Regions from separate parts of the Homo sapiens genome. Here region 1 is linked to region 2. Evidence: fine-mapped expression QTL. A gene starts in region 2. The other region holds a variant in brackets. All regions are shown on one strand. Distances are from middle to middle.

What was found. PIP is the estimated chance that this variant, and not a neighbour inherited with it, causes the effect. A credible set is the group of variants that fine-mapping cannot tell apart.
Region 1: its variant is the best candidate, but not a certain one, in a credible set for the expression of TOX2 in vagina (GTEx, PIP 0.56).

The regions. Positions count from the first base shown.
Region 1 is chr20:43,848,985-43,854,362 of GRCh38, forward strand. No RefSeq gene overlaps it. Among named protein-coding and RNA genes, the nearest start is that of LINC01728, 43 kb to the right of the region's middle. The variant G/A (reference allele first, on the strand shown) is at 3,207.
Region 2 is chr20:43,911,781-43,917,158 of GRCh38, forward strand. It overlaps TOX2 (TOX high mobility group box family member 2), which reads left to right and starts at 3,072. Exons shown (of 9, transcript NM_001098797.2): 1 at 3,072-3,210. The coding sequence starts at 3,112. RefSeq lists silencers at 2,723-2,842, 2,943-3,042, 3,063-3,172, 3,223-3,312, 4,383-4,442 and 1 more and enhancers at 2,809-3,526, 3,527-4,244.

The DNA.
Region 1 (5,378 bases), 63 kb before region 2:
ACTCTGTCTCCCAGGTTGGAGTGCAATGGTATGATCTCGGCTTACTGCAACCTCCTCCTCCCGGGTTCAAGCGATGCTCCTGCCTCAGCCTCCTGAGTAGCTGGGATTACAGGTGTGCGCCACCATGCCTGGCTAATTTTTGTATTTTTAGTACAGACAGCGTTTCACCATGTTGGCCAGGCTGGTCTCGAGCTCCTGACCTCAGGTGACTCGCCTGCCTCAGCCTCCCAAAGTGCTGGGATTACAGGTGTGAGCCACTGTGCCTGGCCAAAACTTGGGTTTTTCCAGCAGTATGGAGTTGTGAAAGGCTGGCCATTCGCGGGGTTTGGGAGCCATCCCTTAGGCCTCCTGGGACTCTCAACCCTTTGCAATCCTCATGATCAAACACTCCTGACCTTTCTGAGCCATGGGCCTCTTCTCTGAGCACATCTTTTAAATGCACAAAATAAAAATATATTAGATTACAAAGGATTCCAATTATGTTGAAACATGGTTATCAAAATATTAAAAACACTTTTGATATAGTAATAAATGTACTTCTTCATTAATGCACTAAATAACAAGCGCTAGGGACAGGTCTAATTAGCATCTTAACTTTGAAGTGGTACTGGGTGTAAACGATCTATGGAGATAGTAGCAATGACTGTAATGCGATATGAAAATATCTATATTTCTTTTGGTGACAAAGCCAAGAACACCACTAATACAACTGTGGTTTGTTGTTGACATTCGCAAGGGAAGGAAATGCTAACTTTCAGGGCAGTGGTGCTGAAGAGACAGATGTAATATTTTTTCCACCTCCCAAGATTACCAACTCCCTCCGTGAGGATCCCCTGTCATTCATGGGGTTAGGGGTGAACAGGACGGGGCTCGGACCCCAGGGTGAAGTGCTCATGACCAGAGGCCCTTCCATGGCTAAAACTAGGGGCGCAACAGGAGCTGATCCCCAGGGCAGGCCTCCCGCAGCAGGCAAACCTGAGATCTGGGAAGGGCCTGCCCTTCCTCCCTGCGGCCCTGGTGAGTCACAAAACGTCCTTTCTCAGGAAGACCAAATATAAACAGTTCAGGATTATCTTGAGAACAAGATGTTTGTTTACTTTCTAAAATTGCAGACATGGCAAAGTGCTGAGGCCTACAACTGCAATTAATAATAATTTAGGCCCATCGCTCCCAGGGCAGAGCTGCATCTCCGTGTTAGAGACAAAGACCCATCTTTTCCTTGTTTTGTGTTCAGGCAACATGACGTTATTTCTCCCTAGTCATAGATATTTTTATTGCTTGTATCACCCCAGATTATACAAGCAATACATGCTCATTGTAAAAATTTCAAAATACTACAGAAAGTAAAATTTTCCCCATTTTAACTCATTCCCAGAGAGAACCGCTAATAATGTATTCGATCCACTGTGCTTTTCGTCTCCATGCCTGTACTCACACACATTACCGTTCATATAATTTCTTTTTCCAAATGGCATTCTGTGAAAATTGTTCTACAACTTGCACTTTTTTTTTTTTTTTTTTTTTTTTTTTTTTTGAGATGGAGTCTTGCTCTGTCACCCAGGCTCGAGTGCTCGGCTCACTGCAGCCTCTACCTCCTGGGTTCAAGCGATTCTCCTGCCTCAGCCTCCCAAGTAGCTGGGACTACAGGCACCTGCCATCACACCTGGCTAATATGTGTACTTTTGGTAGAGACGGGGTGTCACCATGTTGGCCAGGCTGGTCTCAAACTCCTGACCTCAGGCGATCCACCCGCCTCGGCCTCCCAAAGTGCTGGGATTACAGGCGGGAGCCACTGCGCCTGGTCTCAACTTGTACTTTTCACTGAAGATATCATAAATATTATTTGTTGATATGTCTGTCTCCTCAATTAGAAATTGGAGTTTCAGAAAAGGAAATACAGTACTTTATAAATCTTTTTAAATCAATGCGCCTTACCCAACAATTCATACATAATAGGATTCAACAAATATTTGCTGAGCTAGTGACCAAATTAATAAATACATAAATTTGTTTTTCAAAAAATAAATTGTGAACACCTTTGTATGTTCATTAAACAATACTTCATTGTTGCAGGGCTCCTGAGAGCTAAGTTGTAGGGACGTGACTGAATTTTTCAATGACCACTCACAGGTACATGGGTTGTTTCCAATTTTTCAAACCTGTTCTGCCCCAAACATCCTTAAAACATATATATCTTTGTATGCTTCTTTATGCATTTTTTAGACTCAAAGAAAGGCCTATTTAGATTGTACCAAATTACAAACCTATCACCACAGAATCTTTTTTATCTGTTCCCTCACCAACACTGAGTGTTTATTTATTTAGTGGATGTGAATGCACTTTATTCAACAAAAATGAGGCCTATTTCAAATATGCCAAAGGTGCTTCTATAATTCTTTCTAGTAACATTTCTAATTGGATTTTTATTCTTTTGAATATTTCAAAAGATAATATACTTTGAACAATTTCAAGCTTGTGGAAAAATTGCTAGAACAATACATAGTACTACCATATAGCCCTCACCAAGATCATCAAATTCTTAACATTTTATCACATTCTGGCTTGTGCGTGTGCTCTCTCTCTCTCTGTCTCTCTGTCTCTCTCTCCTTCCATTATTCTCTTTCTGAATCTTTGGAGGGCAAGCTGCACACATAGTATTCCATCATCTTTAAACACAGTCGTGTGTATTTCACCAGACCAAGTTCATTCTCTACCTAACCCCAATGCAACCCTCCAAATCAAGAAATCAACATCAGTACAAACACCACCACCCAATCCATGGACCCCATTCAAGCGTCCCAACAATTTGTCTTTTCCCCTCTGGTCCAGAACCTTCTCCAAGAACATGTATTGCATTTAGTTCTTGTGCATTTTCAGTTTCCTACAAGCTGGAACAGTTTCTCATTTTGCCCTGTCTTTTGAATCCTCAATGGTTTTTTTTTTTTTTTTTTTTTTTTTGAGACGGAGTCTCGCTCTGTTGCCCAGGCCGGACTGCGGACTGCAGTGGCGCAATCTCGGCTCACTGCAAGCTCCGCTTCCCGGGTTCACGCCATTCTCCTGCCTCAGCCTCCCGAGTAGCTGGGACTACAGGCGCCCGCCACCGCGCCCGGCTAATTTTTTGTATTTTTAGTAGAGACGGGGTTTCACCTTGTTAGCCAGGATGGTCTCGATCTCCTGACCTCATGATCCACCCGCCTCGGCCTCCC[G/A]AAGTGCTGGGATTACAGGCGTGAGCCACCGCGCCCGGCCTCCTCAATGGTTTTAAAGGGCTCCATTCTCTAGGGTGATACTCAACTCAGATCCATCTGAAGTTTCCTTGTGTCCACACTCAGCCCATGTTCCTGGGCAAGGAGGCCGCAGGATGCTGCTGCATTATTTCAGTGTATCATCTCAGGAGGCACAAGACGGTGACCACCTCTGGAGGTGTTAATCTCGACCACCAGGTCATCTTGGTGCCTGCCAGGTTTCCCCAGCGTATTTTTATTTTATTTTATTTTATTTATTTTTGAGACGGAGTTTAGCTCTTGTTGCCCAGGCTGGAGTGCAATGGCGCAATCTCAGCTTACTGCGATCTCCATCTCCCGGGTTCAAGCGATTCTCCTGCCTCAGCCTCCCAAGTAGGTGGGATTACAGGCGCCCGCCACCAGGCCCAGCTAGTTTTTTGTATTTTTAGTAGATGGTGTTTCACCATGTTGGCCAAGCTGATCTCGAACTCCTGACCTCAAGTGTTCTGCTCGCCTCGGCCTCCTAGAGTGCTGGGATTACAGGTGTGAGCTACTGTGCCCGGCCTTAGGTTTCCCCACCATAAACTCACCATTTCCCTTTTGTAATTGATTGGTATGTTGTGGGGAAGTTTCTGAGATGATGCCAATATTTTCTGTTCCTTGTTAAACCCCCTTCATGGATGACTTCTGGATCAGTCACCTTTGTGATATTGGCCAAATGGTAATTTTTGTATTCTCATCATTCCTTCTATACCTATGAGTTGATATTCTATTGTAAAAAAAGTCTTTTCCTTTTCCTTTTTGTATGTACGGGTGTATTTATATCAGCAGGAGCTCATGGATTTCTATTTTATAATTCATTTCTATCATTACCTAGTTTGACGATCAGAATCTTGTCTCCAGCCTGGGCAACGGAATAAGACCCTGTCTCAAAAAATAAAATAAAAATCCAGGCACAGTGGCTTATACCTGTAATTCCAGCACTTTGGGAGGCCGAGGCAGGCAGATCCTTTGAGCTCAGGAGTTCGAGACCAGCCTGGGCAACAGGACGAAATGCTGTTTCTAAAAAAAAATGCAAAAGTCAGCCGGGCGTGGTGGTGTGCCCCTGTAGTCCTAGCTACTTTGGGGGCCGACGTGGGGAGGATCATTTAAGCTCAGGAGGTGGAGGCTGCAGTGAGCCAAGATCACACCACTGCACTCCAACCTGGGTGACAGAGCCAGACTCTGTTGAAAAAACCAAGTCTTTTCCCAGATGGCAGGGACCCCTTCAAGAACACAGTGGCTGCCATGTCCTTTTGCTATGACTTCATCTTTCATTCACCATTTCCTTACTTTCTGGCATAATGAGATATTCTAGGTTCATCTCGTCATCATGCATTTTCTGCCTCAGCCTTGGCATTAGTCATTTCTTGGAGTAGCCCTGATTCATTTCAGTGAAGGGTGATATTTACAACCAAGATCTGGGCACTCAGTGTACTCATTACACCTGGGATGTAGGTATATGTGTGTGTGCGTGCATGCACATGTGTGTACACACATACTCCTGCTTATTCAACTAAAAATTATTTGCATGTGTGTCTCTCTCTCTATATATATATGTACATACACACACACACGCACACACACACGAATCATGAGTTTATACCAAAACCTCCAAATCCAATCCAATACCTCAAGGTTATTTCTAGCCTTCTCCTTTTACATTTGTAAATATCTTAGGCAATGAGAATCTTGGCTCTCATTATCCCCAATATATGTACTAATTTATTCAATTGCTTTGCTTATTTGTTTCATATAACCTATCTTCCACCATCGCAACATCCTCTCACCGTCCTGCATCTGCGGCTGCTGTGACTGTCAGCCCACACACCTCCACAAAGCCCCCCCCGACACCACCGCCCCAGCCAGCCTCCTCGGCCATGAGGCCCATGGGCCTCACACTTTGGCATGACCCCCCACCTCCAGCCCTGTGTCCTTGCCACTGACTAGTGCCTTCACCAGCCCACTTCCTGCATTATTTCCAATCACTCAATTTGGCCAATCTTACAGTTTCAACAAAAATATCAATGTTGTCATTTTAACTTTTTTTCTTTTTCTGAGACAGAGTCTCACTCTGTCACCCAGGCTAGAGTGCAGGGGCGCAGTCTCAGCTCACTG
Region 2 (5,378 bases):
TAGCTGGGCATGGTGGCACACACCCGTAATCCCAGCTACTCAGGAGGCTGAGGCAGGAGAATCGCTTGAACCAGGGAGTCGGAGTTTGCAGTGAGCCAAGATCACACCACTGCACTCCAGCCTGGTGACAGAGTGAGACTCTGTCTCAAAAAACAAACAAACAAACAAAAACACCAAAGCAAAATGAAACAAAAATAAAACTACAGCAAGCATTATAACTAATGGTGAACTATTGATATCTTTCCTTCTGAGATCAGGAAATCAGGAATGGGGCAAGAGTGTCTGCTACTATTACTTCTTTCCAAAATTATACTGGTGATATTAGCCAGTGCAACAAGGCAAGAAAAAGAAACAAAACTTATAAGAATTGAAAAGAAAAAACTAAAACTCTCATTTTTACAGATGAGATAGAAATTTTTTTTTAAAGCCAAAGAATCTACAGATGAATTACTAGAATTAATAAATGAGTTTGGCAATGTTGCTGGATACAAGGGCATTATTTAAAAATCTATTTATACTATGTTTCAGACCTATATTGCTAAGTAACAAATCACTCCAAAACTTTGTGGCTTAAAATAACAATAATCATTTATTATCTCTCATGGTTTCTGTGCATTTTGGATTCAAGAAGGGCTCATCTGCACAGTTCAGCCTTTTTCATGTGGGTACAGTCAGATAGCAGATGGAACAGGAACAGCAGGAGCTGGCAGAGCTGGGGACTGGCTAGGAATCCCTCTTTACTTAGTATCAGGGTCTCTGCATATGATTTTTCTGTGTGGGTTAGTTTGGGCTTCTTCAATGCATGGCAGCCTAAGAGAGAGTTCTCATATGATGGCTTAGTGTTCCAAAGACAAAAGTCCTGAGAGAGGGAGCCAGGTAGAAGCCCTATTAATTTTATGATCTAGCTAGCCTCAGAAGTCACATAGATTCACTTCTGTCACATTCTTTTTGTTAAAACCCATTCGCTAAGACTAATCCCTTCCCGAGGGGAAGAGTGTTAGACTCTACTTCTTGGGAAAGGTGTCAAAGAATTTGTGGACATGTTGTAAAACAACAACCCTGTACTGACAACAAACAGAAAATAAAATAAAGAAGCCATTCATAATAGCAACAAAAAACACCCGGGGCTAAATTTAATAAAAGATGTGCAAGGTCTCCACGTAGAAAACTACAAAACATTGCTGAGATAACTTTTTTAAAAACCCAAAATAAATGAAGGGACATACCATGTTCATGGATAAGAAGTTTTACTATTGAAAATGTTAATTTTATTCCAATTGATCTAAAGGTTCAAAGTGATACCAATTGAAATCCCAGCAAGATTGTGTTAGTGTGTTTGTGTGTATATATATAAATAGGTATGCTGATTCCAAAATTTCTGTGAAAGTGTAAACATCAAGAATAGCCAATGCAGTCTTAAAAGAACAAAATGGGTAGGCTTATTTCATGGGACATTTAGACTTATAAGCCCACAGTAATCCAGACATTGTGATAATGGCACAGGGAGAGAAAAATAGGCTAACAGAACAGAATAGAGAATTCAGGAACAGTCTTATGCACATATCGACTACTTGATTTACGACAATGTTAGCATTGCAGAAGAGTATGTGTGTGTGTGTAGGGGGGTGGTGGTGGTGGTGGTGATCTTTTCAATAAAGAGTGCTGGTCAGTTGGATATCCAGATGAAAAAAATGGACACAGGACAATGGAAATTTTTTTCTGATGAGGTGTGGCATTGTATTTCTAGAAACAATGACTGCTGAAATTTATTTGGAAGTTCTTTCCTTTCTGAGCTATAATTTCCCTCTGTTGTTCCCAAGCCTTCAGTGAATGCCTGTTTCCCACACCTATCTTTTGTTAATGCATCTTTCTTATGGTCCTAGTTCTAGGCCAGGACCAGCAAAGCCCAAGCAGCAGTTGAGAACTAAGTTCTAAGCTAGCTCCTGAGTGGGCAGGAAGCTCAAGTCCTTTTCTCCCAATGGCATCCTATATCCTGGTGCCACACAAGAATGCCATTCTGGCTGACTTCGCCTCCTGGCCTCTCCCAGTCAGACATACCTGGAGCAGTCAGTGAGCAGTGAGATTGCTAGGGGAGATTGCTAGTGTAGACAATTCTTGCATGAAAAGGGGGATGGGGGTGCAACAGTCTAGCAACCAGCAAGTGATATCAAGAACTAGAGGGTTTTTTTTTTTTTTTTGGTTGGGGAGGAACCCCATTTCACAGTCACCTTTCTGACCCACCATCAGAGCCATCCCATTCCAATCTCATTTTCTTCCTTTCCTCACTCCAAGAGACCGTGACTGTGGGCAGATCCTAGACCCCTCTTCAGAGCTTCGGGCTCTAGGCATTCCTGCGGCCCTCCCCTCCCTATCATTAAAAGGGGTGGGGTCCTGCTGCCTTCTCCAAGTGGTTTCAGCTCTGGATCCTTTGGGGGCAACGGAGCCCACCCGCCTGGAGCTCCATTACTGATGCTGCAAGTTTTTGACTCAGTTTCCCCATATGTGAGTGAGAGTTTAAGCGCGGCAATCTCCAGGGGGGGCTGTCAAGCTGACTCAGATCAGTGAGACGAGGAGGGGGCGGGCATGCTAAGAGCATCCTCCGGCGCTGGCCTGCGTCCCCCCAGGTAAGGCAGCACCCATCTCCAAAGTGGTCCTGTCACCACCTTCCTCTTCCCCCCGCACCCACGCCGCGGGGCGGGGACTAGCGCCGCCTCAAATATTTAGGGCAAGGGAGTGTCCCACTTCTGGGGAGGGGTGCCGTTCGGGCTTCTCTCCTCACCGTGGGTGGCGAAAGGCGGGACGGAAAAGCGCCGTCTGGACAGGCGCGCCCCCCTCAGGGATGCAGGGCCGGGCGGGGGACCCGGCGGCGGCCCAGCCCGGAGGAAGGACCTCCACGCCCCGGCCCGGGCCCCCGGGCCCCCGGCCCTAGGCAGCGCCCGAGGCCGGAACAATAGCGCGCGCGGGCGGGGCGGGGGCGGGGGCGGGGCGCTCCTCTGGGCACCGCCCCCGGCCCGCCCCCCGCGCTCGCAGTCCCGCTCGCACACTGGCTCCCACCCGCCGCCCGCCCAGGCACTGCCCGCGGGAGCCGCCGCCGCCGCCGCCGCGCCCGCCATGGACGTCCGCCTGTACCCCTCGGCGCCCGCGGTGGGCGCGCGGCCCGGGGCCGAGCCGGCCGGCCTGGCGCACCTGGACTATTACCACGGCGGCAAGGTAGGCGGGGGCGGGCGGGGGTCCCCGGCGGGCGGGGCCGGAGTCACCTGGCAGCTCGGGACTCAGGCGCTCCCGGGGTCACACGGGGCCGCGCACATCAGCCCCGCCGACGGGCACGGGCGGCTCACATCGATCCCCTCGCGGCCACGCTCACGCCCTGAGTTGTTGGGATCGCGGGCAGAAGTCATCCCGACAGCCACCCGTGCGACGACACAGTGGCCCCTCACTCGCGTCCCCCTGACAGCCTCGCAGTCATTCACAAGCCGTCACAGTGACCCACAGCCACACGCAGGCGGCCAGGCACTGCTTACACGGTCCCGCCGTCCCACGCAAGTCACCCTGACAGTCACTTATACACAACGACACGCAACCACTCACCCGCAAACAGCCTCACCGCCACAGACGAGTCACCCACAGACGCTCCGATGCCCCACACACCGTGACATGCCCCCACCCGCTGTCACACCCAGGCACAACGGGGGACAGTCACACAAAGAAGTCGCCCGACAGTCACACTCTCGCAGCCACAACGCCTCACCCAGGCGCACGCTGTCACACACAGCCACCCCCCTGGACGGTGAGCCTCAGACACAGATCGTCCTGACGGCCACACAGTCACACGCGGTCACACCCAGGGACGGCCACACCTCGGTCATCCACACTCGCGCGTCGAGGTTTAACTTCTCAGCGCCGCAGCACACTAATTGGGCAGTTTACTAATTGGCCGTCACTGCCTGGCGGGGCCTCGGATTCCGAGTAGGCTGCGGCCAATCGAGGCCTGTGTCCTCCCGGGAGCGGTGAGCCGGCGTCCCTCCAGGCTGGGGCTGTAGTGCCGGACACCCTCCCTCCTCCATGTTTCCAGGATCTATCCCCCCACCCCAGCCAGGTCCCAGCTGCGCTGCGCCGGGCGCATTCCCAGTGATGGAGGCTTGCGTGCCTGGAACCCCGAACCCGAGGCGTCAGGTCCCACTGCCGGGTCTGGCCCAGCCTGGATGGGTTGGGTGCCTCTAAGCAGTCCGCGTCCCCTTCGGTCGCCGGAGAGGGAACTTTCAAACTTAGTTAGGAAGCCAGACTGTCCGCGCGTCCGCCAGTCGGTGCGTCGGTCCCGGGCCGGCTGGAGCCAAGCGCGGGTTTTCGTCACTCGGAGCCCGGATTGAACAGCGCGCGTGGGTTTCCCGCAGCCCTGGCGCAGACGCGTGGGCTCCGTGGCGATGCGGGGTGAGTGCGCGTCCAGTGGCTGGATCGGCGCCCCCCAGGGTCTCTCCCCAACCTCGCAGGCTTTTCGTCAGGCCCCTGGTAGTGGGGATGAGGCAGGAGAGAGGCGTCCCGGCGCGGATCCCGGGGCCTCCCGGGCTGGGCCTCCCTGAGTGCGCCCTCAGGCCCCAGGGGAGCGGCTTCTGGCAAAGCCTCCCTGCAGTTCGCCAGGGGCAGCAAGCATCCAGGCCACTAGGGCCTGCGCGATGTGGGGCGGTGGTGGGCGACAAGTGAGGTCTCGCGAAGAGTGGCGGTGGTTCTCTTTTGTCCAGTGACCTGCAAAGTTAGAAGCCGATGAGGGGGGATGGTAGCCTCAGGAGAAGGCCGGGAGCTGCCTCCAGTCTGATGGAGGAAAATAGATTAAAAGTAGCAAGTGGAGTTTTCAGGGAGGAGAAGGTTGGGTGTGGGGGCAGCTGGTCTGTCTTCTGCCCTTGGCTTTGTTATTTTTCAAAATGTGAAGTTGGCGAGGTAGGTACCAGCCTCTGGTTTGCGGGTGTGGGTGGGCTGGGCATTTGTGCCTCAAAGTCTGAGTGGGTGGGGGTTTAGCCTGGAGCGCTCCGTTTGAGGGTGGTGTTTCTATAAATCTCGCCAGGGTGGGGCTGTCCCAAATAGGGGCCTTTGGAGGCAGGACTCAGCCGAGGCCCCTGCTTTATTCTGATGCTCTGTAAACCTCTGACTCAGCACCAGAACCTGTGCGAATCTCGCCGGGAAGGGCCCGTCAGGGAGGGAATGAGAAGCCGGCGATTCTGGTTTCTTTCTGTGTGGGATGTAGGACCCCTGGCCCATAGCTGAGGATGTGTCCAGAGTGGGGCGGGGCAGGGATGGGGGTGGGGATGCAGCTGAGCCACTTGATAGGTGAAAGGAAGGTCTGACTTTGCACTTGGATGTGAAATCTGCTACTCAGTCCTTCAGGC